2 linked regions of the Homo sapiens genome follow. The protein of the gene in region 2 interacts with the protein of the main gene of each other region in a pairwise test. Each region holds a gene or a part of one and is shown on either strand. Other genes may lie near its edges. The genes, in order: PLA2G4A and CAP1.

Evidence for each region.
Region 1: the proteins of CAP1 (region 2) and PLA2G4A interact in a two-hybrid assay, tested with the Homo sapiens proteins (one study listed by BioGRID and IntAct).

Annotation. Positions count from the first base shown.
Region 1 is NC_000001.11:186,937,711-186,954,536, reverse strand, and holds part of PLA2G4A (cytosolic phospholipase A2), read right to left. Parts: intron 15,530-16,826; coding exon 15,307-15,529; intron 14,558-15,306; coding exon 14,443-14,557; intron 7,901-14,442; coding exon 7,763-7,900; intron 7,669-7,762; coding exon 7,576-7,668; intron 3,881-7,575; coding exon 3,809-3,880; intron 1-3,808. UniProt on the Homo sapiens protein: Has primarily calcium-dependent phospholipase and lysophospholipase activities, with a major role in membrane lipid remodeling and biosynthesis of lipid mediators of the inflammatory response.
Region 2 is NC_000001.11:40,052,781-40,069,606, reverse strand, and holds part of CAP1 (adenylyl cyclase-associated protein 1), read right to left. Parts: intron 10,274-16,826; exon of another isoform or gene 10,271-10,273; 5' UTR 10,261-10,270; coding exon 10,149-10,260; intron 9,541-10,148; coding exon 9,437-9,540; intron 7,873-9,436; coding exon 7,795-7,872; intron 5,381-7,794; coding exon 5,237-5,380; intron 5,134-5,236; coding exon 5,048-5,133; intron 3,393-5,047; coding exon 3,287-3,392; intron 2,068-3,286; coding exon 1,890-2,067; intron 1-1,889. UniProt on the Homo sapiens protein: Directly regulates filament dynamics and has been implicated in a number of complex developmental and morphological processes, including mRNA localization and the establishment of cell polarity.

The sequences.
Region 1 (16,826 bases), about 150 Mb from region 2:
AGCTATACATGTGTCATGTTGGTTTGCTGCACCCATCAACTCATCATTTATATTAGGTATTTCTCCTAATGCTATCCCTCCCCCAGCCCCCCACACCCTGACAGGCCCTGGTGTGTGATGTTCCCCACCCGGTGTCCAAGTGTTCTATTGTTTAATTCCCACCTATGAGTGAGAATATGTGGTGTTTGGTTTTCTGTCTTTGTGATAGTTTGCTGAGAATGATGGTTTCCAGCTTCATGCATGTTCCTGCAAAGGACATGAACCCATCCTTTTTTATGGCTATATAGTATTCCATGGTATATATTTGCCACATTTTCTTAATCCTGTCTACCACAATGGACATTTGGGTTGGTTCCAAGTCTTTGCTATTATGAATAGCGCCACCATAAACATACATGTGCATGTGTCTTTATAGTAGCATGATTTATAATCCTTATCTTCACAGGTATTTGTTTAACTGAGCTGAGTAAATGAAGAGATCTTTCATTCAGTAACCAGTCCAGATGACTATATAGTCACCAAAAACAAATACACTACTTTCTACTCTTACACTTTTCTAATGCCAAACAGGACAAAATATGTCTTTTACTAGAACAATTCAGGCTTTAAAGTGAACGATTTCTATCTCTAGTTACACAGCATATAAATAGGATATGCAATTATTTCCAAAGATTTTGGGGCTGTCGCTTCTTACTTTTCTTCTTCTTATTCAATAAGCCCTCACTTCCATACCAGGATACCTTTGATAATGGCATCACTTGTGGGACAAACCCAACAGTCAACATATAAATGATACTTATTGCTTATTAATCATAACAGTAATAGTACATTTCTATTTGCATCGCCCTTTACAACTTAGAGCCCTTTTGTATGCATTTGCTAAATTAATGATTGCAACAATTCTGTGAGAGAAGGTAAATGGTTCCAGGATAGGTCTGAAGAAACTAAAGCTGAAAATGCCTAAAACTTTGCTCAAAATCATATGACTAAACATGAAAGAGCCTCAAGAGAATAAAAGGATAACCCACAGATTGAAAGAAATTATTTGCAACAGACATATTTGATTTAAAACATGTAATATAAAACATACAAAGAACACTTTAAATTCAATAATAAGAAAATAACCCCAATCCAAAAATGGGCCAAAGGCCTGAACTGATACCTCATCAAAACGATATACAGATAGCAGATAAGCATATGAGAAGATGCTTCAAGTTAAATGTCATTTGAGAAATGCAAATTAAAACAATAAAAAGATACTACTACATACCTATTAGAATGACCAATATCCAAAGCACAGGTAATACCAAATGTTTAAAAGATGTGGAGCAACAAGAACTCTCATTCATGGCTGGTAGTGGAATGCAAAATGGTACAGCCACTTTGGAAGACCATTTGGCAGTTTCTTACAAAACTAAATATACTCTTACCATATGATCCAGCAATTGTGCTCCATGGTATTTACCCAAATAAACTGAAAAATCTGTGTCTGCACCAAAACATGTACATAGATTTTTCTAGCAGTTTTATTCATAATGTCCAAAACTTGGAAGCAAACTTCAAGTTTTCCAAGTTCACCTTCCTCAGCAGGTGAATGAATAACTAAACTGTGGCACAACCTGACAATGTAATATTATTCAGTGCTAAAAAAATAAGCTATGAAGCCAAGAAAAAACATAGAGGAACTTTAAATGCACACTACTAAGTGAAAGATCTGAAAAGGCTACATTATTGTTTGATTCTGACTACATGACATTCTGGAAAAGGCAAAACTATGGAGAGAGTAAAATGATTAGTGCTTGTTAGGGGTTGGGGGAGGAGGGGACGGGGCAGGAGACAGGATTTTTAGAGCAGTGAAACTAGTGTGTGTGACATGTATAATGATGAATATATGTCATTACATATTTGTCAAAACCCATAGAATATACACTAACAGTGAGTCCTACTGTAAACTATGGACTTTGACTGATAATAATGTCAATTTAAGTTCATCACTTGTAACAAATGTACCACTCTGGTGTGGAATGTTTATAGTGGGAGAGGCAGGGGTGGTGGAAGGTGGACAGGGGACATATGGGAACTCTGTACTTTGTGCTCAGTTTTGCTTTGAGCCTAAAACTGCTCTAAAAACTCTATGTAAAAGAGAAAAAATAAATACTAAGAGCCGAAAAGAAAACCTTAACCACATACTACATATCATGCTGTAAGCAAGGCTGATCCTAAAACCAAAGCAGCCATATTCAACAGTCCTTGAACTTCTCAGCCTTAAGACTCAGCTAGTACTGTAGGGGTTATCAAATGTACTGACTATCTATAGAAATACTTAATAATGGAGAAACCATTATTCTGTCTCCTCAGTAGTCCCTAAATCAATACACAAATAATTCTAAAGATGCTAGGCATGTGATAGCTATCCCCTTTACAATAGCTAGCTTCCTTCATTAAAAGGAAATTCAAAACAAAAAGGACTTAAACAACTAAAATATATATAAATTTTAAATTTTAAAAATGAAGGAGCCAGGATGAAGACTTGCTTGCTTCCAGGACAGGGTTCTTTTGGGGTTCCTGCTTAATGATCAGGGCTGCTGGTCATTATTTGATTAGGCAGATCATGGGCTACATAACGCAGCAGGATAGGGGGGCAAATCAGGGCTGAACCCAACTTGCACTCATCTAGCCAAGCCTCATGCCCAGATGAAAGCGTTGGCTGCCCAGGGAAGGAATCCTCTTTTTTAATGTTCGCAAGACAACATACACTAGCCAAGCCATGGCCCTGTGCAGCTACATTCTCCAGAGAAGGCAGCTTTTCTTTAATTTACACAAACACATCTTCTGAGGAAGTAATAGCCCAGCTATGAAAAAAGAATTTTAATTTTAGTAATAATTAAGCAAGGATAAAACAGGCTCTTCCATGCCTAGTGGAATTAATTAAGTTTTGGACCAGAAAGCATTTAATATCTTCTAAAATCTAGATGATCATATTCAAACTGTAATAGGACAGATATATCCAGTTCTTATAAAGCCTTCCCTTTGTTTTGTTTTTTGTTGTTGTTGTTTTTGTTTTTGTTTGTTGGCTTTTTTTTAACTATTGGGAACATTTTTATAAATGGCTGTCTCAAAACACTGTGTCAAAATAATCTATTTTACCACAAAACATTTACAACAAATATGACTTTCATATTTGTTGCAAATCTGATCCTCACCTTATCTCTGCCCCAAGTCCATCACTGACTATCATAATCCACACCAAACTGCAAACTACCTTGTCAAAATGTAAAAGGGCTCATTTATACTATGAAATAATATACGTATCAAGTTCTTGATACTTTTACCCCACTTCATCACTAATCCTTTCTCAAGAGGGAGGGTGTAGCCAGTGGGATAAGGGTCAGGAATGGAGTGAGAATATAATTTTTCATGTTACTTAATAACAAAATTCTGAAAGACAAAATGTTAATTTTTAAAGCCATCTAAAAATGTTCCCAAATCACAGTAACCATGCTGAGAAGCCTAGTGCTCTAATCAGACTTAAAATAGAATTCAGCATTTCTACCATCTTGGATCTGTTCATTTGTTCAACTTATAGTATTTTTGAGGTATTAAAACAAAATAAATTAGGGATTTATATGTGCTGCCTATTTTATTAGACATGCAACATGCAATCCTCTCTCTCAACAGAAAGCTACAATTTTATCACTTCCGTGTCTGAAGTGAAGATTACCATCAGCATCTTGAGTGAGAAAATCAGACAGAGTGTTCATATCCTTTCCTCATGGATCTGGGCCAGAAAAGTTTCCGGCTCACTCACCTTTGGGTTCGTGTGATTCATCATCACTGTCCGAGCTATCATTACTCACAATATGCTTTGTGGTAATATTTTCTGTGAAAAGAAAACAAAAAAATTGAAGCATTTCAGGTGTCAAAATTAACAATTAATTTTAATATAAAAAAGTAATCTGAGCAAAACCACAGAGTGAGATCTACTAGCTCTACTAGTATAAATTTAAATCCATTTAATAATTCTAGATTTATTAGATTTAATCATGTTCTCAGATTTCTCACTGGAAACAAAATTTCCTGGGACATGAAAAATTAGTTTATATTTATTAATTCATGACTTAAAGAGGATAATTTTATGTTTATCATAATTCTGACAAAAATAACAACTTGATTATAGGAAGCTCCTTGTTATACCAAAAAATATGCCTTTTTCTTTATTAGATATTTTTAAGTGGTGTTTATGAAGATAAAGGATAAAACCAAAATCTACAGGTGAGCTACCAAACAGTTTTCTTAAAATGAATGAAAGATACTAACATAAATTATCTTTTGACTTTCAATAATATTGAAAATTGTCAGTTGAAATTCACCTTTTGGTGTCAAGAATTTGTGCTTCCTGCAGAACATATTAAGAGAGCAGTTATAAAAACTAAAATAACAACCAGAAATCCTTAAAACAAAGACAGCAGTAAATTCTAGCATAATAACTAGTTATCTTTCTTCTTTATGTTTTTTAAATGGTTACCCAGGCTGGCCTGCAGTGGCATGATCTCTGCTCATTTCAACCTCTGCCTCTGGGCTCAAGCAACCGTTCCACCTTAGCCTCCTGAGTAGCTGGGATTATAGGCATGGACCATCATGCTTGGCTAATTTTTTTAATTTTTTTTTTTTTTTTTTGGTAGAAATGAAGTCTCACTCTATTGCCTAGGCTGGTCTCAAACTCCTGGACTCAAGTGATCATCCTTCCTTGGCCTCCCAAAGAACTGGGATTACTGGTGTGAGCCACAGTGCCCAGACTAGTTGTCTTTTTTCAAGTAAAATGTGCGTGAATGAGCAAGAGTTAGTAATGGAAGGGTTAATAAATGCTTAAGGCAATGGATTGACATTTATTTTTTAAGTTTTTACTGGCATGATTATACATAAAAAATTTGATTAAATGTTCACAAGCTAATATTATTAGTTTCATTTCATGGCTATCATCAATAGTAATTTTGTTACACAGAGGTGTGGGAGATGTTAAGAAATGATCTATCCCAGGTGCCATATACATTAGGTGTGTTTCTAGTCCTACATTTATTTTCTTTTCCTTCCTTAAGTATTTTCTTTCTTTCTATTGCCTTTCTTTCTTTCTTCTTTCTTTTTCTTTTTTCTTTCTTTCTTTCTTTTCTTTCTTTCTCTTTCTTTCTTTCTCTTTCTTTCTTCTTTCCTTCCTTCCTTCCTTCTTTCTCTTTCTTTCTTTTTCCTTCTTTTTCTTCTTTCTTTCTTCTTTCTTTCTTTCCTTTCTTTCTTTCTGTCACATATGATAGTTTAAGAAAATAGTTCACCAAAATACTGTCTTATTTGTAAGGAAGAATTCACGATATGAATAGCTAACTATTCTGAATTTACATATTTTCCATCCTAGTATAATGTACAACTCCATCTCTCAAAAGTGTAAATTTTTCACATTCATTCAAAACTCCTTAGAGAGTAAGTAGTTTCATTCAGAGTTACCTGATTGTAGCCCAATTTACCTTAAAGTCTTTCTTCAGAAGGAAGAAAACAAAAAAGTAAAAATCATCTCTGAACACTCCTTTAGGAGATAGACTTCAGTCAGCCAAAGGATAGAGTAGTCACCAGGAGTCCTCAGAGTCCTCTTGGTCACCTCTCTGGTTTCATTTCTGGAAATCCTTACTTAATCTGAGGTAACATGCTTCCTGCTGACTGGCGGATCACACATACACGATATTCCCCCTCAGTCTGACACACAGTCCGAGTCAATAAGCTGCCAGACTGCCGGCCTCTAAAGAAACTTCTCAACAAAGAACCTTCTCAAAACTACCTAGTATAAACCTCCTCCTTTTCCTTGGCTTTTAGCCACTGTCTCACCCACATTCAGATCTGTTATTTCAGTCCTATTCTCTTCCTGCCTTAAGAAGAAAAAACAGCAAACCCTGGGTTATCTGGATTATTCAACAGAGGGGCACAGGAAGCAAGCCTCAATATGTGATCTTCTCTTTCTTCTTCTTTTTTTTTTTTTTCTAAAATCTTCACATAACTTAGAGAAAGGGTTTGTTATTTCCACAAAGAGTTGGGAACAGGACATTCATCTGGGATATAATGTTCATTAAAAGAAATCAAGTAAGATCATTTTATCATTATACACATTGCCTTGCAGTTACTCTTAGGAGAATGTGCCCCGTGGTAAATGTCACAGCAGGCTCATGGGTGCCACCTACCTTGTTTGCTCATTAACTGGGTGATGATCAGAGGACAGAAAATAAACAAACACAAGGTGCCTTATTTGTGTGTTTGTTTTTATTTTTATTTTAAAATCTTTGGCTCCAATGAAATTATAAGATAACTTTTCCATTATTCATTAAGAACTAACAAAAATACAAATGACACTCTTGAAAATATTATGAACTACAGGAGTTTACCACACTAAATACAAATATTAAATAAATTATCAAATAACTAAAATCAATTGTAGGAGCAGTGGAAATACTGCTTATAAGCCAACTTAATGTTCCAATTAATGTTACAATTGTATTCTCTTTTGCATGTAAACTTAATTAAATCAACTGACATTGCCTGGGATAACCAAGGACAGCTTGTTTAAAATTCCTGCAGGAAGCTTTTTGTATGCAAGCATTCTTCAAATAAATTAATTATTTAAAAAGTCATCAATGTTATTCTGTCGACTTCTTTGTTCTCAGATAGATCTTTGCTACTTCCCAGATAGAGAAGAGATAGTAGGTAGTTGTGTTGATAGTCCATCAGGCACTTCTCCCAGGTCCCTGCTGTTATGGCTCCAAATTCAGATTTAGCATGCCACCATTTCTTTATGCTATCAGTCAAAACAGTCAACCCAAAAATTAATGTTGATTAAAATACAGGTGGCAAGGCTTTTGGAAGAAACTGAATATAAATTTTTTGTTTGCTTTAAGTCAAATTTATTAATTTAAGAAAACATGTTTCTATGGTATTCCTATAATGAATGAAAACCACTGGTCCCCAGTTGAGATTGTCTACTTTCTCAGGTTTTGTAAATATTCGTAATTTATTATAGGCCAATAGGTTAGATTTAATGAAAATCATTAGTTTAAGTGTACTAGAGGTGATTTGATTTTTTTCCTTCTTTTGGGTATAGATTAATATAAGATGCTAACAGAATTCTGGTGAGTTAATATTTAAGGGTTAAATAAACTGACAAGCATAAGCTTCAGTGTTACATTGTATTTAGCTGTTGGTGAATCTAATCTTTAAAAAGCTATTCTTATTTGATAAAAAGAGGACTTTCTAATACAAATAGTATGTTTAGCAGTATAATGCGAAAAAGGAATAGAGATGTGTTCTATTAAAAATTACTCTTAGAAATCAATGATTTTTATGAGTTTTATAACCTCAGTGTCAAAATAATACTTAAGAAGTAACATATTATTTTTAGGAAATATTTAGATTGATTCAACCAAATTATTAATAAATTTAGAATAGTTGAAATATTTACAAAGATTTAATATTCTCTCTATATATGTCAATAAACTTTATCAATGTAGCAAGATTTGTATCAATGTAAGCATATCTTTAGGATACCTAATTCTTCCTCCATTGTGGAGCCTCTGCTTTGTGAACCAGAAACGCCCAAAACTCTGTTGAACAATATGGAAAAGGCACTGCCCCAGACACCTAAAATAAAACAGAAACAGAAAATAACTTAAAATATCCCAGGTTTCAAAATAGTCAAGCAAGTCAATGATATATTTTTATTTTGATCACTTACCCATTAAGAAATGCAAGGGGTTTTCTTCATACTTCTTAACGACTGTTCCCATAAAAAATTTGCTTCCAAATAAGTCGGGAGCCATAAAAGTACCATATTTAGCCATGCCAATTTCGTATGGACTAAATTCAACCCAATCTGAAAGTATTTTAAAAACAAGGCAATCCATTAATAGGAAAATGCTATGGCATGGTGTGCACAATTAATGATCACTTTAATAATGTTATGCTTATTCTCATTCATGTATTTAAAATATCAAAATGAAAACATTAGCCAAATGCCCATTATGTATATGACATTGTGTAGAAGTTGGGGGAAAAACGCTTAGAGGTGAATAAGACAAGACGATACAAAAAGATCCCTTCTAATTTGCAGAAATTAGATGCACTTTTCTATTTAAAAACTCAGATGTCTTTTTGAAGCCAGTTTTCATTCTACAGAACAGGAAACTGAAAACTGCTAACTAGATATAAATTTCATGGAGCATACAGAATAAATTAAACTCTTCTAAGCAATTCAAACAGTTTATTAAAATGAAATAAAATGTTTTCTAACATTTATCTTTTCTTCACCTTCACTTCAATTTTGCTCACTAACTGTCTATTCTAACTCCACAAGATTGCAATACAAAGTTTTTAGGTTGAATGCCTTAGAAAAACATGGTAATAGTGCCAGAGATGTATACTGTCTAAGCGCGGGGGCTCTGGAGCTGGACTGTCTGGGATCAAATCCTATTTTGCTGCTTATGAGCTGTGCTTACTGACTTGGGTATTATTCTCTCTGTCTTAGGTCCCTAATCTATAAAATGTGAATAAAATCACATATCACAAGTAGATAGTGTGTAGGATTGTTTTGAAGATCCACTGAGTTAAGAAATGTAAGGAGCTTAGAAGAGGACATAGCACATTTTAATTGCTCAATAAATAGTAGCCACTTTATGTTTCATGTATTCCCATGGCTACGACTATGTCTAATTATCATCTGCATCTTGATGTCTTCAGCAAGAACTCCTGGTTTCTGATTCCCATTTTCTACATTTGCAACTCCTTCATTCTTCTTCTTGTTGGTAAATGGTACTATATTATTCATGCCACTACTCACTTCAGGATTACCCTTGATGGTTCTCTTTTCCCTTATAGCTTACACAGGAAAAATCAAGTGCTGTAGGCTCTATCACGAGGTATGTTTAGAACCTGGTCACTTATCCATTTGTCCACTGTGATCGTACTGATACAAATTGCTGTATTCTCTCTCCTGGACCTCCACAATAACCTCCTAAAATGCTTCTACTCTGTTCACTTATTATCTTTTTGATATCCCATAGCCAGAATAAATCTTTAAAAATATAAATCACAGCACACCAGTGTCATCTGAAAGCTTCCCATTACACTGAAAATAAAAACAGGGCCGACAAGTTTCCGTCCTGGCCTAGATCCCACTCCCTGTGTGATGTGACCACATCCCTCCTAACAATGTTCTATCACATTTTGTCTTGCGTATCCCACTTCACTTCAGCCACACGGCACAGATCTTCTTGCTGTTCCTCAAAGAAGTCAAGTTCATTCCCACTTCAGCACCTTACACTTGCTATTCCCTTCTGCAGTTATAATGCTTGCTCCTACTTAATCTTTATTTTAGGGTCTTTGCTGATGGTCCATTTTAAAATCCCAACATCATCCACCCCTGCCCAACTCATAATTCTCTAACCCACTTCATTTTTTTTTCTAGCTTTTCTCTTTCTGAAATTATAATATGTCTGTAATATCTTATCCAACAATACAAAATCCAAACAATTCAAAAATTCATAAGCTTCTTTGTTACTCATTTGTTTGTAAAATCTAATCTGAATTCATTTAGTGAGAAATCAGGCTTGAATGTTAGTGGGGGCTCTTATAATTCATTTATCCCACTCAATGTGGATATTTATATATCCTATTGGAGAAATATCACTGATTATAAGAACCCAATGGGGTATTAGGTAATACACAATATGAGTATCTTTATATCTCCAAAATCCAAACATTTTGAATTCTAAAACACATGTCACCAAAGGTTTGGAAAAGGAATTGTGGATCTATATTTATTGTTTGTTCAATGGTAGGTCACAACACCTTCCTTTCATGAAGGAAGTGATGAAATCACAATTTTGATAACATTGTAATTCATTATATGTCAAAGCCAAATGGTACATATATTCTTCATCAGAAAGTGGTGTGATTTACAACGATTTACGTGGAATTTGTGAGACATAACTAGCAATGAATCAGAGGCTGTTAGGAAAATTCCTGTATTCATACAAGTAATTTCCTATCTCTCAATTTCACAACCCTATCATGGGAACTGAGGCATAACAACTTCCTGGTTCCTGCTTTTCTAGCGATCTCTTCTTGATTAGCGCCATGGCCTGGGCACATAGTAACTTAGGCATTCTCAAAAGCTAAAATGAGCTCTGCACCCCTCACTGAAGAACTCACGGTGTTAGTTTTCAACTAATTCTCTCCTGCTGGTGACTCTACCTTTTGACTCCAACCTCTCTCCTGCGCTTCCATGTACTTTCAACTTCCTTTGGGGCCCTTACACTCAGATATTCTGTCATCTCCTCCCACTATACTTACCTAGATAAGAACTCATCACCCTTCTTCCCGGGCCAGCTTACCTATTTCAGTAAACCATGCTATCACTCTATCAAATCCATCATTGCATCACACCGATAACCTTTAGGCCTCTCATATCCATCTATTCTTTTCTTATCAGTATGTCCCTAGTTCCAGGGCCTTATCACAAAAGCACAGTGATATCTCTGCTTCCAGTTTCATTCCTTTCCATTCTGTTTTTATTGGTCACCAAAGTGACTTTTTCAAAAACACTACATAAATAATTTTATTGCCCTGCACAAAAGCATTAACTATTTCCATTATCATCAAAATCAAATAAAAATATTTCTGTCTGGAATTAAAATCATTCCATAACTTGGGACTATTGGTGCCTCCAAATACAACACCTTTTCTTCACCAATGTGTGCATAAGTCCTAGACTAGTTGTTTTTTTTAATAGTGATGCCCAAAACATAACTCTGGCTTCCCTTCTGAGCATTTTCTCATATTGTTTCCACACAAAGGTATCTTTTTACCCGTACTTGATAGATCCTTCTACATTCGACTTAAATCCAAGTTTCATCACCCTTTCTTACAACTATACTAAATCTCTATGACATCTCACCCTTATGTCAGGTCTACACACTTATGTCAGGTCTAGGTATATTATAGGAATTTTTCCATGCTTTATTTTTGTCTCTTTCAATAGGATTATAACTTTCTTGAGGAAAAATACTATATTTGTACTTCTAAAGTGTCTGTCAAAAAATTTAGCATGATGCTAAGTTCATAACCATAAGTTGTAATCCATAAATGCAGTTTATTCACCAGTGGAAATTTTTAAATGAACGTTTTAAGTCCTTTCAGCAATGTGATGTAGTGGAGGAGTCAGGAATTTCTAACAGTTTAAACACCAATGTTTATTTGTTGAAAATTTCCAAGAAATTTCTAAATGAAAGGTGTGTTTAAAATTATTCCAAGAGGAAGGGAAAATATTATCCGGTATTGTTGAAGTAAAATTGTTAATAAAGCTTCTGTAAGCTAATTTGATTATTTGACTTTTAAAAATATAATTCAGAGACTATCTCAACTTTTTCTTCTACACAGCCACTTTCAATCTAAGCATATATTGGAAGAATAAATTACAGACGTGTCTCTATTCTTTTTTTCCCAGTAACTCAAGTAAAGCTACTTGAACACTCAAGACATGTACCTTAAGATGTCTTATCTGGGTACAAGATTCATATAATTAATGTTTAATGATTTTGTCTAAATCTGTTGGAAGACACAGCTCAACCCGCCTTATGACAGAAGCTTAACAATGAAGGTTAATGATGCACCACTCATCTCAGTAGCAGTACTGCAGTGAAGCAGATGTCAAAAGAAGACACATCCAGGTCCAAAGACTACTAACTGAATATAAAACAGCATTTTTTCAGTCTAAAAGAACCCAGAATATCCACTCACCCAAATATTATTTATTCTTTAATTATTTTAGTTAAGTTTTCTTGGAAAATGGCTATTGACTAAAAATTCAGAATAAAATATAACCACCGTGAAAAGTCCAGAACAATCATGACAATAAAAACAAACTTTTATATTTGTATGCCTCTTTATAGTTTTCAGTCTCATCTTATGCATATTTCATATTATTGCCTTAATAGCTCTGGAAGATAAATCTTAGGGTTAATATATTTTTTAAAATAAGGAGGAAAATAAGAATCAGAGATTACATGACTAGCCTGAGGTATTCAGCTTAGAAGTATTGTAAGACAAGGCTTTTAAATTAGAATGTAGTGTTCTTTTGACCATGTAATTCTTTCTGGGTGAAGGATGATTTATTTGGCCATGCAAAAATCTGACTAGCATGCAAGTGTTATAGATCAAACAATTCCAAAAATTTCAAAGCTCCACAAGATAATAGCTATGGCTGGGGGGAAGCAATTTCATTATGGCGCTTACTTTTCTATGTAATAAAGTCTCAACTCTCTACTATGAACCCCATTATAGCCCAAGATGTGTGGTTCCTTGTTGCCATTGAGCACACCTGAGTTATCCCTGACCCTGCTACATGCCCCCTTCCACAATCCAATAATTAAATGTGCCTTTCATATTCAAATCCTATTAATCTTTAAGATCTAGACCTCTGACTTTTCTTATACAGCTTTCACAGAACATTCTAAATTGTTAAAATGTACTGGAAACTTATTATTAGGGCCTGCCATTGTTTACATACTTTGTCTCATTTTTTGGCAAAACATTGTGAGAAGTCTCATCTTCACTTAACAGATGAGAAAACTGGGTCTAACGTAGATTATATAACTTGGTCAAAATGACAGTGTATAGTAACAGTTCTGTACTCTCTTGTGCCTTAACTTCTTTAATAATTATTGTAAATTTTCCAAACAGACTATAAGGTCTTATAGGGTAGGGACAATATATTGTGGTGAGGAAAGAGGAATTCATCCTTAGCGCCCGGCAGACTGCTGCAATCTATATAGACGGTAATCACTATGTACACATCAGAAGTTAGTATGGTAAAATAAAAAGAACAAAGGATTTTTGAAACCAATTTCAGCACTGCTAATTACGTTCTAAGCAGCAATGTGCAAATTATTTAATCTTTATGAGGTTTTCGTTTTTCTTCTGTTGAACAGAGCTAAAAATACCTACTCCCCGGTTGTAGGAAACATGGAATAAAATAGCAAATGTGATAAGTGCGTTCTGAACCATAAGCATGACAAACATTTTAGCCAATATTTTAATAAACATTTGAATGAATGGATCCCATGTGTGCTAATTTTTGTAAACTATTCAAAATTTTTGTCTGAGAGGCAGTTGAGAGAAAAGTGAAAATTACAAAAGGATTCTGGATATATATGTGCCAATTACACACCACTCATGATGGTTTTTTAAGCTCATGGGGTGTCTGAAGTCACTGAGATAATTTTCCTAAAAATAGAATGAAGCCCACCAGCTACAGTCAGAAATGCTATTGTGCTGCAGACTAACACTGACAGAGGCCCCCCCAAAAGTATGCTGTTGTGCCCTTTTTTTTTTTTTTTTTTGAGACGGAGTCTCGCTCTATGGCCCCGGCTGGAGTGCAGTGGCATGATCTCGGCTCACTGGAAGCTCCTCTGTCTCCCGAGTTCATGCCATTCTCCTGCCCCAGCCTCCCGAGTAGTGTTGTGCACTTTTATAGTATCCAAGAAGCAAAGCTTGAGAAGAAACAAGTGTTCACTCCTGAGATTTTAACAAAATGAGGCATTGGTTCATCAACCACTACAAATATACACTAGAACTTTTTAGGTGCTGAATTATAAAAATTACAACAGCACTTTGAATGGCAAACATACAGTTGGCTCTATATACCCATGAGTTCAGCAAATTCTATCAACTGCAGATCAAAAATATTTTTTAAAAATTCCAGAAAATGTAACGTTGTTGACATGTACTGTTTGATCTGTACTAAACATGTACAGACTTTTGTTCCTTGTAATTATTCCCTAACAATATAACAACTATTTACCTAGCATTTACACTGTATTAGGCATTGTAAATAACCTAGAGATGATTTAAAGTATACATAAGAATGTGTGTAGGTTACCTGCAAACACTGTGCCATTTTGTATGTGGGGCTTGAGCAGCCACTGAATTTGGTATCCACAGGGGGGCCTGGAACCAATCCCCCATGAGTACCAAGGGAGGACTGTAGATCATATTACCCAATTAATGAAAAGATAACCAACAAGTAAAACAATTTGCACTACCTAAAAGCACTAGGCATATTATTTTGTCAAAAGTTACTGAGGAGTGGATAATTAATTGACTGTATTGATTGATTGTATCCATGATTTTTATTTTACTATAGTAAATGAAAATACATTAGTTACTAGTTTCATGGAATATTCTCTACAACCAGGAAATCATCTCACTTAATATTTTCTTATATCTTCAAAGTCTTATGTTACAGAAAATACATTAAAATAAACAACTGAAATTGCTTATGACCTTCCTCTAAGGAAAACCATGGGAAACTGCAATTCAGAGGTTCCAGGAAGTGTTCTGAGAAAGGAAACAGCATACCTGCAAACATCAGCTCTGAAACGTCAGGTTTGACATGAAGACAGGTGAAAAGAGGTAAAGGGCATTGTGCAGTATTAACTTTTTCCTTCAAACTGCTCAGAGTAGTATTCATTCTCTGTCCACAGAAGAAAGAAAAAGATGACTTTAAATTTATAAACAGACACAGAAAGAATGCTATTCAAAATAGTACTTCCAATCAAAATCTTATAACTTTATAATAAAAATAAGTCTTATTACTTCTAGAAATTACTAGGTCCTGAATGAACAACAAAAAATAAGCTCTATGGAAGTAACTATCTTCATTTAAAAAATAATCATAACTCTAGATTATATGTCTACATCTGAACTGGAGAATGAATTAGCAACTGTGGAGCCTGGAAGAAACTTAGCCCCTGGACTCCCTGTCACAGGCGCTCCTCTGCTTTATCTTCAACGAAACATCAATGCAATCATGCATCAAGCGAGTCTGTTCTATGCGATCCCCTTCCTTTCTTGACTCTATTCAGGCAAACTTCATTCTTCCTCATCTAAAAATGTTACCATTCTTGGAGGGAATGGGCAGTTAAGGGTTAAAATGTGAATTTTTTTTTTTTTTTTTTTTTCCAGAGAAAAGGAATACAAAAGCACTTCCTCACACATTCAAAATCTTTACATCATTGAAATGAATTAGTAAGCACTAGTTTGAAAGGTAGAAGAATTATAATCTCTGGTGGGGAGAATGGGCTCAGTACGCATAGTTGGACAAATAAGTAGAGTCCACTGACTTTTATAAAATGTATTACATTTTCTTTTATTTAAAATATAATATTATAATATGTTCTGTCTACTTGTTATAAAAGCAGTGTAGATTGAACTGTAACTTACATTATGAATTAGTGTTTCTCCTATTAACATCCCAAAGATATCAGTAAAGGTGACAGGTTGTCCAGAGCTTTTCTTCTTCCATAAAGACTCAACATATCTTTTAACTTTCTGTGGTGTGAGAAGTAAAAGGGGATTGTGGCTAACATTTTTCATTAGTTCTTCATTAATCTCCTCTGGCCCTTTCTCTGGAAAATCAGGGTGAGAATACAAGGTTGACATATACCTATACAGAAAACAAAACACAATCAGTAAAGATAAAGAGCATTACACAACAGTCTCCAAAGAAAGAAGGCACACTCTGTAAATAAAGCATGGTGGACATATTTGGTTAACTTCATTATCTGATTGCAGATATTAAAACATTTAAGAAAAGAATGTGTCAATCAGACAGGAGCTAGTCTACCATGAAGGTAAAGAAAAAAAGAGGTGTCAGAGGAAACACTGAACTTTCATCCACAGTCCAAGAGAGAAGGTGCCCTACTAGGACTAGTGTCCATTGTCTGGTGTGCCAGGAATGGAGTATCTCTATCAGAGTATTAGAGATTGATGACAGAGCACATCTGAGTCATGTAAATGAATTGACTTGTCTGGCTCCAAGACTAGTCAAGCAATCTGATCATCTAAATTTCCAGGATGATTATCTACAGGTAGAAAATATGTTGTCCCAACTATTGTAAATTCCTAATTCCCTTGAAAAATCCTTTTTTCTCCTTAATTATCCATTGGCCAACTAGACAAAAATCTCAAATCTTGTCAACTGTAGGTCTCTAAATTTCTGAACATATGAATCTGAAGGCAAAATCCTAAAGAGAAATAAAGTCTTTAAAGTAAATGCTTTCTTACGAAGCCTCTTGTCTGCCAGCCATTTGGCCACTTCTGGTAAAACTGGAAATCACCATGAGCCTTGATATTTGATATCTAGATAATAAAAATTTAGTTATGGTGCTCCTACCTGTGAACCAATACCTCTAGTATGGTAGATCTCATGCTGACTATTAATTACTCGTTTACTTATCTGTTTCCCTCAAGAAATTGTGTCCTCCTCCTTCAGGAAATAAACTTTGTTTATTCATCTTTTTTAGCCTCAGTGACTAGCTAATGTCTGGCATATGACAAGCACAGCTTAGGAAACTCACAGAACAAAATAAAAATAGAATATGTAAACATTCCATCACTTCATCCAACCAAGGAGAAAATAGCACATGTTTTAATCTCTTATTTCCTTGGGATTCAAATCAAAATGTCTACTATAATGGTTATCGTCCCTTCGAGGGGAGAAAACTAATTCTTCTTAGGCCCCTACTATATTCTGGGCACTGTGTTGGTTAATTGTTCATAAGCTGTTGTCTTGAAGACTCACGGTGGCTTTCAAATATTCTATTTTAATTATCAAGAAAAAGAGCATTGGGAAATTTAAATAACATGCTCATATTCCCCAGTTTATAACAGCAGAACTGGAATTCAAAATTTATCCTCTCCCCAGTAGGCTATTTTTTTTTTAGTCTATTATACAAGACTTC
Region 2 (16,826 bases):
AAATTCAAAGCCAAAACCAGAGCCTTTGAGATGTTCTCTTGCAAGCAGTTTTGGAAAAGTACTTTTATCATTTCTCTTCTCCCCAAGATTAAATTATATGGTTCCATTAACAACAACATGGAATGTGTGTATATTGTGGGTGAGGATAAGGATATGTAAATCCTTATCCTCTATGTCTAGAAAGACATATCAAATGTATGTGCACAAATATATAATTTTTAAAGCAATAAAGAAAAATGAGTGGTAGTAAAGAAAATTTGGTAAAAGGAAAAGAAAAAAATACCCTCACTCCCCACAGCTAACCCTACTTCCCCCACCTCCTCAGTCAGTGTTGGCATTTGCAACTCTACAATATTGTTTTCTACATATATTTGGTTTTGTTGGTTATAATCATACAGATTGTTAACAAATTTAGTTCAACTATTGACACTTAAAAACTTTCTCATGTTAACCTGTAGTTTAATATCTTTCTAGGCCAGGCGCTGTGGCTCATGCCTGTAATCCCACACTCTGGGAGGCCAAGGCAGGCGGATCACCTGAAGTTAGGAGTTCAAAACCAGCCTGGCTACCATGGTGTATTTTTAGTCTCTACTAAAAGTACAAAAAAATTAGCCGGGTGTGGTGGCAGGTGCTGTAGTCCCAGCTATTTAGGAGGCTGAGGCAGGAGAACTGCTTGAACCTGGGAGGCAGAGATTGCAGTGAGCCAAGATCACGCCACTGCACTCCAGCCTGAGCAACAAAGTGAGACTCCCATCTCAAAAAAAATAAAATAAAATAAAAAATAAAAGTAAAAATATATTTCTTTTATGTTTTAAGGGAAAAATAATTCATCATCTCCCACAGCAGGCTGACACACGCCTCGCTTTGAACATGGCCAGATCTATGTTAACTGTATAACAAATACTGAATGGCCTTTTTATCTCCACCATTCCTTGTGGTTGTAATTTACATACTAGATTTTTTTTTTCTTAAACATTACATGGTTCACTGTAGAAAAACATGTAATGGTGGCACAACATTTCATCAAGAGGCCGGGCGTGGTGGCTCACACCTGTAATCCCAGCACTTTGGGAGGCCGAGGTGGGCAGATCACCTGAGGTCAGGAGTTTGAGACCAGGCTGACCAACATGGAGAAACCCCATCTCTACTAAAAATACAAAAAAAAAAAATTAGCCAGGCATGGTGACGCATGGCTGTAATCCCAGGTACTCGGGAGGCTGAGGCAGGAGAATTGCTTGAACCTGGGAGGTGGAGGTTGCGGTGAGCCGAGATCGCGCCATTGCACTCCAGGCTGGGAAACGAGCAAAACTCCGTCTCAAAAAAAATAAAAAAATAAAAAACATTTCATCAAGAGGACATGTGGTAGTTAGCCATTTCTCTTACAGTTGGATTTAGGTTGTTACACCATTTTTAGCTACTATGATCATAGATTCCTAGAAGTGGCTGGACAACTCAGACTTCCACCAGCTGTGTTAAGGGTATCTACTTTATACCAACATTAGGTCACTCTCATGCAAATTTTCCATGTAACCAGTATGCATCTTCTGAGGAAGTTAACTCCCTAACACAATGCCTTCCCAGAGGCCATGTGGTGCCACGGAAAAAGCTCTGGGGAAAACCGCCAGCTCTGTGCCTTGGCACAAGAGGGTCCTCTATATATGCTACCTAATATTAAGTCACTTTCCCATGGGGCAGATGGCTTCCTCCAACTGTGATCATCATTTTCAATTTCCATTTAAGCCAGCTTTGCCGTCCCTTAAAGGAACAGGACACACCAAACGAGTCTCCACCACACAAGCCAGGGTTGTAGTTTACAGACGGTTCTGGTTGGTGGGGTCTGGCCCACACAACTTGTTGTACCTACTGTTCGTGTCCAAGTGCTCACTCACCATGTGTAATGCTCTCCCCCTGATTAATCTGCGCGAACAGTGATGAGCGGGAAGCAGACTCATATGAGCATGAAATGGTAGAGACTGGGGGAGGAGGGGGGCATGGTGGAGGGGGAGGAGGACATGATCCGGCAGAGGGTCCAGATGGCAGTCCGCTCAGTTCTTTTGCCACAGGCCCCTGGAACAATAAGTGCAGGTAACATCATCATCCTCTCTGCTCCCCTCTGTACCATTCCCAGTAGTGCCCTACATGGGCCAGTGCACATGGGGTCCCCACCACAGCCTTTGAGGCAATGATTAATGTGTCCTACCCATACCCAACTTGGCTTTATGCCTTCTCACCCTTTCCCAAGGATCCAGCTCTCAGTTCTATTTCTTGACCATCACATTTTGCCTTTGAACTCACCTGATTCCAGCTCTAAAAACTATTTCCACAAATCTACTTGACATCTTCCTTAGTGTGTTACCAGTACCTCTGATTCAACAGATTCAAAACTGATTTCATCATTTCCTGCCGCTCCTCTCCCTGTACAATCATCCCCTTGTCCCTATTTCAGTGAAAGATGTTACTATCCAAGACTGACTATTCAATCTTCTTTGAGGATTCCAACTTCTTCGACCTTATCAAATCTCTATTATCTTGGTGCTATCTCCTGCAAATGTTTTTCTACTATCCCCCAAACACCATGACCACTTTCATAATCTGAGCATGAGTCCTTATCCCTAACCTATACACTGAGACTCTTTTAAAGACAAATTGAATCATTATCACTCCCTTGCTCAAATACCTCATCCCAAAGTCTCAGCCTACCTTCCTTTCCAGCCTTTTCTCCTAAAATTCTGATCATTTCCCCTTATTGAAGCCAGAGATGACCAATCTCTACATTTACTCTGCATGTATTTTGTTTAAGCTGTGCCTTTTGTAGTATCCCACTTCTCACTGCCCTATACTACTTTCAAGTCTCACAGAAGAGTATATACCTTCAAAGTACAATCTCTTCTAGTGAGAAGCACTCTTCTCTTCCTCATACTCTAGTCTGTATCTTTATTATAGCATTTGGCTTGGTGATTTGTATTGGGGTTTTGCATTCTTATTTTTAAGCTCCTTAAAGGCTGGGATAGTGTAACTCATTTGTGTGTGTCTCCTGCTCCAGCACCAATCACTGTCCCTAACATATTTATTGAAATTGAATACCACTGAATATTCCTTCTCCTCTGATCCTTGCTTCCTCTACTCTTTTTACCCTTTCTTTCTCCTCCTTTTCTTCCTCCCTTCCACTGAAAAAACTAGCATTCCCTCACAGACTTTGGTAGTGCTGAAGTCTAAGAAACCTGTGGACCCCATGCTGGAGAGAGAAAGTGGGAGGGAGGGAGGGAGGGAGGAAGGATTCACTAACCGTTTTGCTCCAGGCCAGTCCGGTGGTATGGAACTCCTTAATGTAAGCCTGCAGCTCTGTCCATATACTTAAATAAGCTTTGACCCAGTCTACATGCTTCTTATCCCTGGGAGGATTAAAGAAGAACTTGTCACAGGTGATCCGGGTACATAACAGTGGTGACTCCAGAACCCTTCTTTCCTATGGGCTCACATTCTCCTACCCGTGGTGTTTCTTAGGCTCCGCTCAATGGCAGCTTTTCTATCATCACCAGCTTCTATGTATATACAACCTAGTCTATTACCCTAATCAGACCAAACTCCACTAAGATAGAGACTCTGGATTCTATCTCTATCTCTCATAGCAATGTTTCTCAAACTGTTTTAAGTACCAAAACTTTTTTTTTTCTTTTGACCACTTGCTGCTTATTGAAACTTTTTTCAAAGTAGACCTTAAACACAATCTAATATGTAAAACTGATAAAAGCAGACATTCTGTGCATAAAACCATGGTAGAGAGGAGAGCTCTTAAGTATCACTGTGGAACTCTAAAGACTAAGAAACTTAACTGCCTTATGAGACAATGCCTTATGTCAAAATATGCCCACCCTGACCAAAAGCAAACTTAAAAACTTTCCCTTAGGGGGAAACAATCAGCCTTAAATTATAGAAATAGCATTGTGCCTACGGTTCAAGTCCCCTCTCTTCTTATGTATTAACTGGGAAGGTTATTTAGCCTAAGACCTAGTTTCCTCAACTGTAAAGTGATGGGATAATGGTGGGATATATCAAAACACTGTCATGCTTAATTCCATGTTGCTAGAAGGATAAGGAAGTGCCTGTTGTTCTGGGACACATTTCACTCACAGGAAGGTGTAGTTTTCCTTAAAAAGAGTAGTTAATAAATGTTTGTTGATTGATGAAGGATGGAAGAAAGGAAAGGCTTGTGTAGATATGCAACTTAATAAATTTTGCCTGCAATCATTCCAGCTCAAAACCAGCAATGGAGAAGTCAGAACTGGTAGACGTATGTGGTTAGACATGCAATGACTGCCCTACGTAATACCTGCATTGGCTAGGCAGCCTTACTCTCACTTTAACTGACTTCATGAAAAATTTCTATTAAGTCCTATTGAACCCTTTGCCATTGGGCCAGTAACAAATTCTCAACAAAGGAACAAAATCTTATATAAAGGGCATTAGTCCATGTTACTGCCAGCAAAACTTCCTAAACCCAGAAGGGTAAGGATCAGAAGACTAAAAGGGCCTCTACCAAAAAAGGAGAGAAAGCAGAAGTGGAAGCAGAAGTATTTCCTGCTTGCAAATGCAGCTGTGAGACAATATCTGTAAAGCTCTCCAGAAAGCAGCCCTGAGATAAAACCAGCACAGTGGCTAAGGGCAGCCCTCAGTAACTCCAAAGTGCTACTCCAGCAAGTAACCAAATGGGTTTATCCTTTACCCCTTGAGAAAAAGCTGAACTTGGCTGGGCACAGTGGCTCACACCTGTAATCCCAGCACTTTGGGGAGACCAAGGCAGGAGAATCATTAGAGACCAGCCTGGGAAACAGTGAGACCTCATCTCTACGAAAAAATTAGAAAATTAGCCAGGCATGGTGGAGCGTGCCTGAAGTCCCAGCTACTTGGAGGACTGAGGTGGGAGGATTGTTTGAGCTGGGAGGTTGAGGCTGCAATGAGCTGTGATTGTGCCACTGTACTTCAGCCTGGGTGACAACGCAAGACACTGTCTCAGAAAAGAAAAAAAGAGAGAAAAGGCTGAACTTACACATCTTTGTACTCTTTGAGGACTCGGTTTGTATAAAACATGGCGGCATCATTCATTTCTTTCACATAAGGGCCAGGCTTGGGAGCCTAGAGAGAGACAAGCTGTCAGTGACTCAGGACCTCTCCAACTATATTGCCTTCCCTCTTAAAATCTATACCCACCCCCAGCCCTGGAATCTGCGCTGCTCACCATAGCCACCCAGCCCAGGGCCTGGATACTTTCGCTGACAGCTGACAGGTGATTAAACAACTTGCTGCCTCGGTTCTTCTCCCGAAAGGTTATCACTTCTTTGATCTGCTCTGAGATGGGTGCCAACAAATCGGAAAGCTTATTCTAGGAAAAGATACAAGAAAAGATTCAGGTTAACATCTTTCCACAAAGGTGTCTATGCCTTCTGATCCTGAAGGCAAGAATTCTCTATGGACTCTAGTGAGCACCCAAATAAACTGCATGAGTCCTGTCCTGATTCCTAAGGCTAAAATACTGCTCATCATCTCACTCTCCTCGTAGAGTTCCAACTCCTCAGGCTGCACCTGATGGTTCTTCATGATCAGGACCCATACTTCAGCTATACCACAGAACCTCCATTTCAGCCACCTGTCTCTTTTTTGTTCCACTCAGAGGACATACACTCAGGACATCATTCCTGTGCCTTACTCATGATGTTCTCTTTTTTTCCCATGAATCCAAATTTTCCTCATGCTTCATGAGGGCCCTCCAACCCAGCCACACCAGCCTCCTACAGCATTTGTTGTCAGCATAACCAATCTTGGCATTTTATCACTCACCAATACAAACTATTAATGGACCCATGTGAATATGTTTTACTTTCTCATTAATTCTTCAAAGACGAGCTCTTTTATCATCATGAAAGCCCCCAATGCATTGCCAGCCATATAGTAGCTGCTGTAAAGAACTGATGAATCAAATGCAATTAGGGGGCTTAGTCTGGGCATGGTGACCCACGCCTGTAATCCCAGCACTTTGGGAGGCCAAGGCAGGAGAACTGCTTGAGACCAGGAGTTCAAGACAGACTGAACAACACAGCACAACTTTGTCTCTACAAATAATAAAAAGAATTAGGGCCAGGCATGGTGGCTCACGCCTGTAATCCCAGCACTTTGGGAGGCCAAGGTGGGCAGATCGCTTGAGTCCAGGAGTTTAAGATCAGCCTGGGCAACATGGGGAAACCCCATCTCTATAAAAATACAAAAATCAGCTGGGCATGGTGGCGCATGCCTGTAGTCCCAGCTATTCAGGAGGCTGAGGTGGGAGAATCACTTGAGCCTGGGAGGTGGAGGTTTCAGTGAGCCGAGATCCTGCCACTGCACTCCAGCCTGGGCGACAGAGAGAAACTCCATCTCAGAAATAAATAAATAAATAAGTAAGTAAATAAGCAAGCCAGGCATGGTGGTGCACACTGTAGTCAAGGCTACTCAGGAGGCTGAGGTGGGAGGATCATTACACCTGGGAGGTCAAGGCTTCAGTGAGCTGTGATTGCACCACTACCCTCCAGTCTGGGTGACAAAACAACACCCTGTCTCAAAAAAAAAATTTTTTTTTAAACATAAATAAAATAAAAAACAATTAGGGGCTTAGCATTCAAGTAGGCACCTTGGCAAAATGGATGAATTTTGTTTGTGTTTGCACCCTTCCTCCAAAGCTCCATTTCCTGAACATCTCAATTCTCAGATCTTAACCATTCAGGACAGATTAAGAATTAAAATCTAATTCTACATATTAGAATTAGATGGCATCTATACACACACACACACACACACACACAATGTTTTTTGAGAGAAGGTCTTGCTCTGTCGCCCAGGCTGGAGTGCAGTGGTGTGTTCATGGCTCACTGCATCCTCAAACTTTCAGGCCCAAATCTTCCTCCCATTTCAGCCTCTCAAGTAGCTGGGACTATACGCATGCACCACCTTGCCTGGCTATTTTTATTTATTTTATTTTTTTAATTTTTAATAGAGACGAGGTCTTGCTATGTTGCCCAGGCTGGTCTCAAACTCCTGGCCTCAAGTGATCCTCCTGCCTCAGCCTCCCAAAGTGCTGGGATTACAGGAATGAGCCAGCACACTTAACCAGAATCTAATATATTTGACATTATCTTGCACTATTTTTATATTATCTAGGCATGCTGAGGGTCAAGGGTTTTAATACAGCATTTAGGACAACTTGCTTTATTATTCCTCTGTAACTAGGAAAACCAAATGCAAAAGAAGGAAACCTATATTCTTTGACTCCAAGAGAAATCTAAATTTTCTCTAATTCAACTTTTCACATCTTGCACCATAAAATTTTGAGGTGGGAGTAAAATTAAAGAGAGAGTCTCCCAACCAGTGAAGGATGAGGAGAGAAGCAATACTGTAGGAGTTTTAAGATCTCCACAGGAGCACTACTAAAGCCCATCCACAGTGAAGCAAGAGAATCATCTTTAAAGGGCTTTGGAGACACTATGATGAATGTGGACTCAGCAAAGAGGCAGGCAAGCAAAGTCCCAGGGATAACCACAGTCCTATGCAAAATGACAGAGAAAAAGCCAGTAGAGACCATTAAGTACCCAATAGTACCTTCCCATTAAGGCACTTGAAGTATGGCTCTACCTCTGGGACTTGGTATGAACATATATTATCAAAAGCCTAGTAGGTCTATTTTAAAATGTTATAATAGCTTGACATAAATCTCTCAACTCGTCCTGAGCATCAAACCAAAATGAAACCAGCTAGTAGTGAACTTACTTCTGCTGGCTGTTGACACTGAGAAGCTGTAACCAACAGAGCTCGCTCCAACTTCAAACCTGTGTGGACCATCTCCGCCTGCCAGAAAGAAGAATCAGCTATTGATGACACATTATAACTAGAGAAGTCTTGATAAGAATAACCTGAAACCTCTACTTCCATGTACTCTGATAGCAACCCAGGCACTTCATGTTATCCTCCTCATGTATTCCAGATTCCAGGGACTGAGAGCAGAATTACATACACTACTGTTCCTATTGGAACTCATCAGGGATATATATCCAGAGTTGGAAGTGAAGTTAATTGGATAATCACCTAGCTTACATGAAGTCATGTTAGCATCTTACACATGCATTGTGATACCGTGCACTGAAAAATCCTTCCTATTTCACATCAGCAAAATAAAACAAACAGCAACCAAAAAAACACCTTTCTTTTCTCAAAAATTGGAGACAGGAGTAAAGGCAAAGGCCTAAATTTCTGCTGAAAATTCTCAAGGTATTTACTCCTTTAGATTAAAGCTATCTCTCAAATGCCAGATACCATGACCCATTAATAAATAATTAAATCAATTTAGTGAGCTTAATGGAACAAAAGTATGAGTGCAGTGCACCAACTTCAAGTTATTTCCAAATAAAAAGTTAAAAAAAAAAAAAGTACAGCAGAAGTAGTATAAATATCATCTTGTGAAACTTTTATCTCAGTTACGAATATGTTCTTTCTTTCTAAGGGTCATTCGCAGTCAAAAGAATTTAAGAAACATGAGACTGTAAGCACTATTAAAATACAAAAATTCAAAGAAAGCAATCTATTTTTTCTGGATTTGCATTTTTAAAATACAAATGATAAATGTTTTAAAGTTTTTTCAAATGTTACAGAACTGTATTAAGTAAAAATGCAAGCCTCCACACCCTTATTAAAGTCCCAGTCCCACTCTCTAGAGCTAAAACCATTGGCAACAGATGGTATTTGAGAGGCTCAAAATAGATTTTCCAAAAGCCAAGCAACCAGTCTTCGAGAAAGGTTTAGGTGAAGAAGTTCCCAAGCATGGTTACTGTTTATAATTCGGTGAGCTAGCAGGAAGGTTTTTGGGTCCCAAAAATAGAGGTAGAATGTATATGTGAGTGTGGGGTGGGGGTGGGGGGTGGTGGTGATGACGTAGGAGGCATAAAGGAAGGTGGGAGGAAAGGCACCTGTCATTGCCTACTTCATATTCTTGCTGTGGGTTAAGTGTGAAAATAACCCACATTAGCATAACTAATAACTATCAAGCATAGTTTTATAAATGCTAAGTCATGATAATGACTCCTTTAAATAAGCCACTGTAGGTTTGATTATGTAATATGTTGGGATCAAACTGGTGCATATTCTTCACTACAAAGATGAACAGAACCATATTTTATGTACCAAGCAAGCTTTCTGTATAAATACGTGATAAAAGCAAGGGGCCTAGAAAAAAATGAGGAATCGTTTCTGTGGCTAGACTGAACTCCTCAGTACAGGCAAAAGAGAAAGAACATGTGTAATGCCCCAAACCAAGAGGAACTTCTCAAGGAGCTCTTAAACCAAGGATGAGGACCTTGGCTGACTGAAGAAAGCTGTTAGTCCTTAAAAGAAGGGGAAAAAGGCAAAACATCCTTACATGTTTCTGCACGTCTCCCCCAATCTCTTTACTGATCTTCAAGTACTCTGCCACAGGACCAGCAAGCAGCGAGTCAAATGCCTGCACATATGGAGCTGCTCCTGCTAAAGACAAACACACCACAAAGAATCAGCCATGCATCAGAAGGAGGCTTCTTTAAAACGTGCTTCTACATGAAAGTGGGGAGGCAAGGTAATACAGTCAACAGGATACAGAACAGGAGTAAGGAAACCTGGGTTCCAGGTCCAGTATCACCACTAACTGGTTGTGTGACCCTGACTAAATTCCTTTTCCTCTCTGAGCTTAATTTTCTTTATCTATAAAATGAAAATAAACAAAATGATCCTCCAAGGTTTTTTTTAGTGCTAACATTCTATGTTCCAACTGGTGCATGTGCAAAATGTCCAATTTGCCAATTGTTTGGAGAGAGGAATTTTATTATCACTTGTCATTTGACTTACATTGGAGTCATTCTGCTAAAGAAAGAGCAGGAAATATTGCACAAGCAGGAAGTTCTTGTGTTAAAATAACTTAACCACAGGCCTCCCTGTACAAGTCATTTCCTCTCTTATCTGTTCACAGCAATACAAATTACAAAAGGTAAACTTTCTAGATTAAGTTTTGGGAAGTTAGCGCCAAAGGAGAGAATAATAGAAAATTTTCAGGCCAAGACGCTCAAAGAAAGCATTCTGCTGGGCTGTGGACTGCTTACCTTTTGAAGGACTGTCTGCATACCCACGGTGCATGTCAGAGGTATGAGATACTGCCTCCAGGCGGCCCACTGCCCTCTCCAATCTTTCTACCAGATTTTGCATGTCAGCCATAATGGACCACCTGCTGAAACAGATCAAATGTCATTTGTTATTTAAATATTAAATAGCACCTACAGAGAAAAAAACAGAAAATTCCTGGTCATCCCCAGGTGGATGAAGAGGATGCCAATTCTCAGGAACAGAATAATTTAATAAAATTAGATATCATCTGCAAAATGGAACAATACAAAAATATCAGATAAAAAAGTAGCATATTTACAAAATCAAAAGACCTCATTAAGCAAGAGAACTGCTCAGGAAAAGGTGTTCACTAAAGTAAATGCTTACTCATTCAAATACTCAATATTTACTATGATACTGTGTGTAGAAAGTTAGAATTTGCAAAGGATAGTCACATACATTATCTCAGTTTGAGCCTCCCGACAACTATTCAGGAATAGAAGGATGATTACTACACGCTTAGAGATAGAAAACTTAGTTTCAGTGAAGCTAAATGACTTGTCTAGTCACACGGCCAGTGAATAGAGAAGCCAGTACTCCATCATATCCTTATCTGATCCTTCTGGTTCTAAGTTCAGTGTGTTTTTTTCCTACAACATCCTGCTGCCTGCATGTGAAATATCCCAAACCAAGATGAATAGGATGTTTACTCTTCCCTCAATAATTTTTTTTTTTTCAGACAAAGTCTTACAATGTCACCCAGGCTGGAGTGCAGTGGCAGGATCTCAGCTCACTGCAAGCTCCACCCTGTTGGGTTCAAGGGATTCTCCTGCCTCCCAAGTAGCTAGGGTTATAGGTGTGCGCCACCATGCCCAGCTAATTTTTTGTAGTTTTAGTAGCGACAGGGTTTCACTGTGTTGGCTAGGATGGTCTTGAACTCTTGACCTCAAGTAATCCACCCGCCTTGGCCTCCCAAAGTGCTAGGATTACAGGCGTGAGCCACTGTGCCCGGCCTGCCCTCAGTAATTTATAGTCTAATGGGGAGACTTAACATATGCACTAACAACTATGAAACAAATAGAAAAAAATGTTAAGGTGACATAAGAAAGTTGCTGATAGAGAGGCATGAGATTTCAAAGAGGGGAGTAATATATCAGCTGGAAGGATCAGATAAGGATATGATGGAGAAGCTGCCATTTGAGCCAGCCTTCAAATGAAGATGAGAAAGATCTGGACATGCAGTAGGGAAGGACACTAGACACATCCAAAAGAATTTGTTATAGATCTTTCACAAGTACTATCTTATCTGAAATAGCCTAATTCAATGTCTAATATCCCAAAGAAAGTAAGCTCCAACAGAGAAAGGACCTTATATAGCTTGTTCCTTACTGTATACTCTACCATCTAGACTACTACCTGGCAGGTAGTAGATGTTCAATAAATATTTATGAAGTTATAAACCTCACAAATAGCATTCCAAAACTCCAGAGGGATAAGGGTGCTAAAAGTTGCCCATAAGTCACACATAAGTGTAAAATATGATCAATGCACCTCTACATAAAGTATTTGAGACCCTAAGTGATCTCATAAAAACCAGTCAGTGAAATTTCAATCCAAGCTTTGACTTGGAAAGATTCCATTTCACAAAAGCGTCAATTCAGGCAACTGAATTCAGTTCAGGTAACTGAAGCTGAATGAACTCAACTCCCTTGAAGCTGCCTAAAATGACAACAGCAATTATGATTCCCCCAAAGATGACAGCATGCCAGAATTATCTCAATTTAACACATTGTCCTCCCTGTGGAAGAGATAAGCAGCTCACAAGATAAAGTAAGGAAGACAATATAGTCTCTGTCCATTCTCTGTGTACAGGCTCTGGTCTCTGTGGGCCCAATCACTTGTCAGAGAGTGTTGTTTAAAAGAGAAGCAAAGAAAAAAAATGAGAATGAGAACCAAACAAACCTTTCCATTCCTTGGCCTGCAGCAGCAGCAGAAGCCTCCAGGTCTATGTCCTACTCTCAAATAGAGCAGACCATAAGCAGTCAACATACTTTCCCTAATGTTATGACACTATCAACTGATATCTGAATTCCTGCCCTGTTCCATTATGCATACTGATCAAGAGACAGACTCACATATATATACAATCCACCACACTGTAAGTCCAGGGGAAAAGGCAAGGAACGCAATAAACTCCTAAGCTACCTTCCATGAACAGATACCACTCAGTTCTGTTATTAAAACATGTTCCTTCATACATGGATGTTTCAGGTTGAGACCACTGTTAACATGGAGACACAGTACATGTATTGCTAGAGGCTGCCAGAGTTTGTGAACATTTACCAATCTTAAATGCTTAATAATAGAGCTTCATGGGACTTTGGCTCCCTTTTTCCATATTTCATTTGTATTTATAGGCTTTCACTGCTAAACAAGCTAAAGTTCCGCTGTCTGACTTAAGCAGAATGAAAAAGGACAATACAGCTACCATTTATAGCTAATCTCATTCTACCATTAACCAAATACAAAAGAACAGAAACTGTTTTTTTTGCTCTTGGTGGGAGTAAGATGAGATTTGAGATGTTATGGAAAATAATGTCCAGAATTTAAGTATGACATTGTATGTGTGTGTAGAGAATGAGATTCAGTTGTGTGAAAGACACACCTTTTCTTATTCTCTATACACACGTACATTCTTCCGGTGGTCATGTACACTCCTAAAGCCTCTGACTACCCTTGTTGTAGTAACACCCAGCCTATTTGCGAGGTGGTACCACCATAACCACCTATAGACTAAAGACTACCAGAGCAGCATATCCATCTAGCTCAGGCCATTCATCTGGGATTAAATTTTAGATTCAGGCCAAGTACTGTGGCTCACAACTACAATCCCAGCACTCTGGAATGCCAAGATGGGAGGAAGTGTTTGAGCTCAGGAGTCCACGACCAGCCTGGACAACATGGCAAAATTCCATCTCTACAGAAAATAAAAAAATTAGCCGGGCATGATGGTACACACCTGTAGTCCCAGCTACCCAGGAGGCTGAGGTGTGAGGATTACCTGAGCCCAGGAGGTCGAGGATGCAATGAGTAGTGATTGTACCATGCACTCCAGCCTGGGTGACAGAGTGAGACCCTGTCTCCAAAAAAAAAAAAATCCAGCTTTCACCTAGACATCGCTACCTGGATGTCCCAAAGGCAACCTGAAATGTCCAAAAGCAGAAATCATATTCCCTAACATTGCTCCAGCACTGCTATCAATCACCTGATTGATCAAGTCAGTAACTGGAAACTGTTGGGCAGTATTATATAGTGGATAAGAGTGTTCTTTAGAGAAATCAGAGAGATTGGAGGTTTGAATAACAATATGCAGTGGCTTTGTGACTATAAGCAGTTATCAAACTTTCTGAGACTCAATTTCCTTATCTTTATAATGAAGACAATAATAGCACAAAAATCCAAAGGGCTTCAGTGAGAATAAATGAAGGAATCCATGTAGAAGTGCTTGGCACAGTCCTGGAAAATAGTAAGGATTCCATAAACTCCCCCACAACATCTTATCAGTCATCAAAATCCATAGGCTCTATTTAGTGTATCTCATGAATAGATGCCTCTTGCCTCCATCCTGACTGATAAGAGTTAGGATACTGGCTGGGCACAGTGGCTCACTCCTCTAATCCCAGCACTTTGGGAGGCCAAGACAGGAGGGTTGCTTGAGGTCAGGAGTTCAAGACTAGCCGGGGCAACATAGGGAGACCTTGTCTCTACAAAAATAATTTAAAATTTTTCCAAGCATGGTGGTGTACAGCTGTGGTCCCAGCTACCTGGGAGACTGAGGTGGGAGGATGGCTTAGGCCCAGAAGGTAGAGGCTTCAGTAAGCCATGAGTACCACTGCACTCCAGCCTGGGCAACAAAGCAAGATCCTGTCTCAAAAAAAAAGGATATCAAGACTTCACCAAGATTACTGCAATGACTTCTTGGCTAGTCTCCCCTAGTTACAGTAATAAACTTTGTTCATCCATTCTCCATATTATAGTCAGAGTGATCTATCTCAACACTTCCCAGAGTACTGAATGGTATTAAAGAAATATTTATAATTATATTTGCATTTAAGATATGATATTAGAGTTGCATTTGACACATACCCCAGAGCGTTCAGGGTAAAGTCCAAACAAGGGTTTCTCTCATCTAGTCCTGCTTAATCTTCTACCACTCCTGTTTTATCTCTTGCTACACCTTTCCTTAGCACACTACAGCAACCCGGGACTACTTGCGTTTTCCAGAAAAAGCCATGCTTTCTCTCACTTCTGAGCCTTTATAATGCTATCCACTCTGCTTAGATGTTTTCCCTTTCCCATCTGCCCCTCTAGAACTCCTATTGTCATTTAAGTCTCAGCTAAGTTATCACCTCCTGGGGAAGTATTTCTAGTATGTGCTACCACAACACTGTGCACTTATCTGTGTCACAACACTGCACACACTGGTTTAAAATCATTTATTTGGCCGGGCATGGTGGCTCACGCCTGTAATCCCAGCACTTTGGGAGGGCAACACAGGCAATCACTTGAGGCCAGGAGTTTGAGATCAGCCTGGCCAACATGGCAAAACCCCGTCTCTACTAAATCCCATCTCTACTAAACATACAAAAATTACCTGGGCATGGTGGCGCATGCTATGATCTCAGCTACTACAGTGGCTGAAGCACAAGAATGGCTTGAACCTGGGAAGTGGAGGTTGCAGTGAGCCGAGATAGTACCACTGCACTCCAGCCTGGGTGACAGAGCAAGATTCTGTCTCAAGACATTAGTAATAAAAAAATAAAATAATTTATTTAATAGCCTTCAGAGTCTAAGAGTTTATGGCCATAATCCCCTGAATGCATCTGATCTCCTCTAACAGTCAACAGGCAACTAGCCACCCTAAGGCAAGGACCATGTCTTGCCACTGTAATTCCACTACTATAAACATAGGAGGCATTAAAAACACTGTACATTGGCTCACGCCTGTAATCCTAGCACTTTGGGAGGCCGAGACGGGTGGATTGCCTGAGCTCAGGAGTTCGAGACCAGCTGGGAAGCACAGTGAAACCTCGTCTCTACTTAGCCAGGCGTGGTGGTATGCGCCTGTAGTCCCAGCTACTTGGGAGGCTGAGGCATGAGAATTGCTTGAACCTGAGAGGTGGAGGTTGCAGTAAGCTGAGATTGCGCCACTGCACTCCAGCTTGGACAACAGAGTGAGATTATGTTTCCAAAAAAAAAAAAAAGAACAGTGGGCTAATAAAGGTGTTTGAGTAAGAAAATAAATAAATAAAGGCTCTTACTCACTCTCCCCTCAACACAGTGTGGCTATCTTCTCTATCGAATCCATGGAGAAGTGTTTTGTTTTGTTTTGTTTTAATTTTTTGCTTATCTGCTTTTGCAGGACCTTACAAACCCTCCTGTCTTTCAAATAAATGTTGCCTTCTCAGCCACGAATCACACTGATATAGAGATCTTCAAACTAAGTACCATAAGGAAAGTACTCTTCTTAGAATATATAATATCAATTAAATATAGTAATTCTGTATAGTTGTAAATGCTTAACATTATTAATCTGTTGATTCTTTTGAGACTTAAAATAATTCTGCAAGGTATGTTACGCAGACATTGATCCCTATTTTTAGAATGAAGAAACTGAACTGACATTCACAGCAGTTAAAAGCTTGCCAGATGGCCAGGCACGGTGGCTCATGCCTGTAATCACAGCACTTTGGGAGGCTGAGGTGAGTGGGTCACCTGAGGTCGGGAGTTCGAGACCAGCCTGACCAACATGGAGAAACCCCGTCTTTACTAAAAATACAAAATTAGCCTGGAGTAGCGGTGCATGCCTGTAATCCCAGCTACTTGGGAAGCTAAGGCAGAATTGCTGGAACCTGGGAGGCGGAGATTGCAGTGAGCCGAGTTCACGCCATTACACTCCAGCCTGGGCAACAAGAGCAAAACTCCATCTCAAAAAAAAAAACTTGCCAGAGGTCAAACAACTAGTGAGTAAAGAACCTAGGCCTAGAGTACAAATATTCTGAATCCTACTCTGCAGCTCTTCTTGCTACTCCACAATGGCTTTTAACAAATTAAGTGACTATATGGTTAATCACAGTATCCAGCCCCAACTTGTTTGCACAGCACTATGGGCTCAAGGTCTCTTTATGGTGTCTTTAGTTACATTATTATCATCTTCCATTTTTCTTTTTTTTGAGATGGAGTCTCCCTCTGTCACCCAGGCTGGCTGTACAGTGGCACGATCTCAGATCACTGCAACCTCCACCTCCCGGGTTCAAGCAATTCTCCTGCCTCAGCTTCCCGAGTAGCTGGGACTACAGGCACCTGCCACCACGCCCGGCTAATTTTTTGTATTTTTAGTAGAGACGGGGTTTCACCATGTTAGCCAGGATGGTCTCGATCTCCTGACCTGGTGATCCGCCCGCCTTGGCCTCCCAAAGTGCTGGGATTACAGGCGTGAGCCACCATGCCTGGCCAATTTTTTGTATTTTTATTAGAGACGGGGTTTCACCGTGTTAGCCAGGATGGTCTCAATCTCCTGACCTGGTGATCCACCTGCCTCGGCCTCCCAAAGTGCTGGGATTACAGGCGTGAGCCACCGCGCCTGGCCAGCATCTTCCATTTTTCTGCTTTCAATT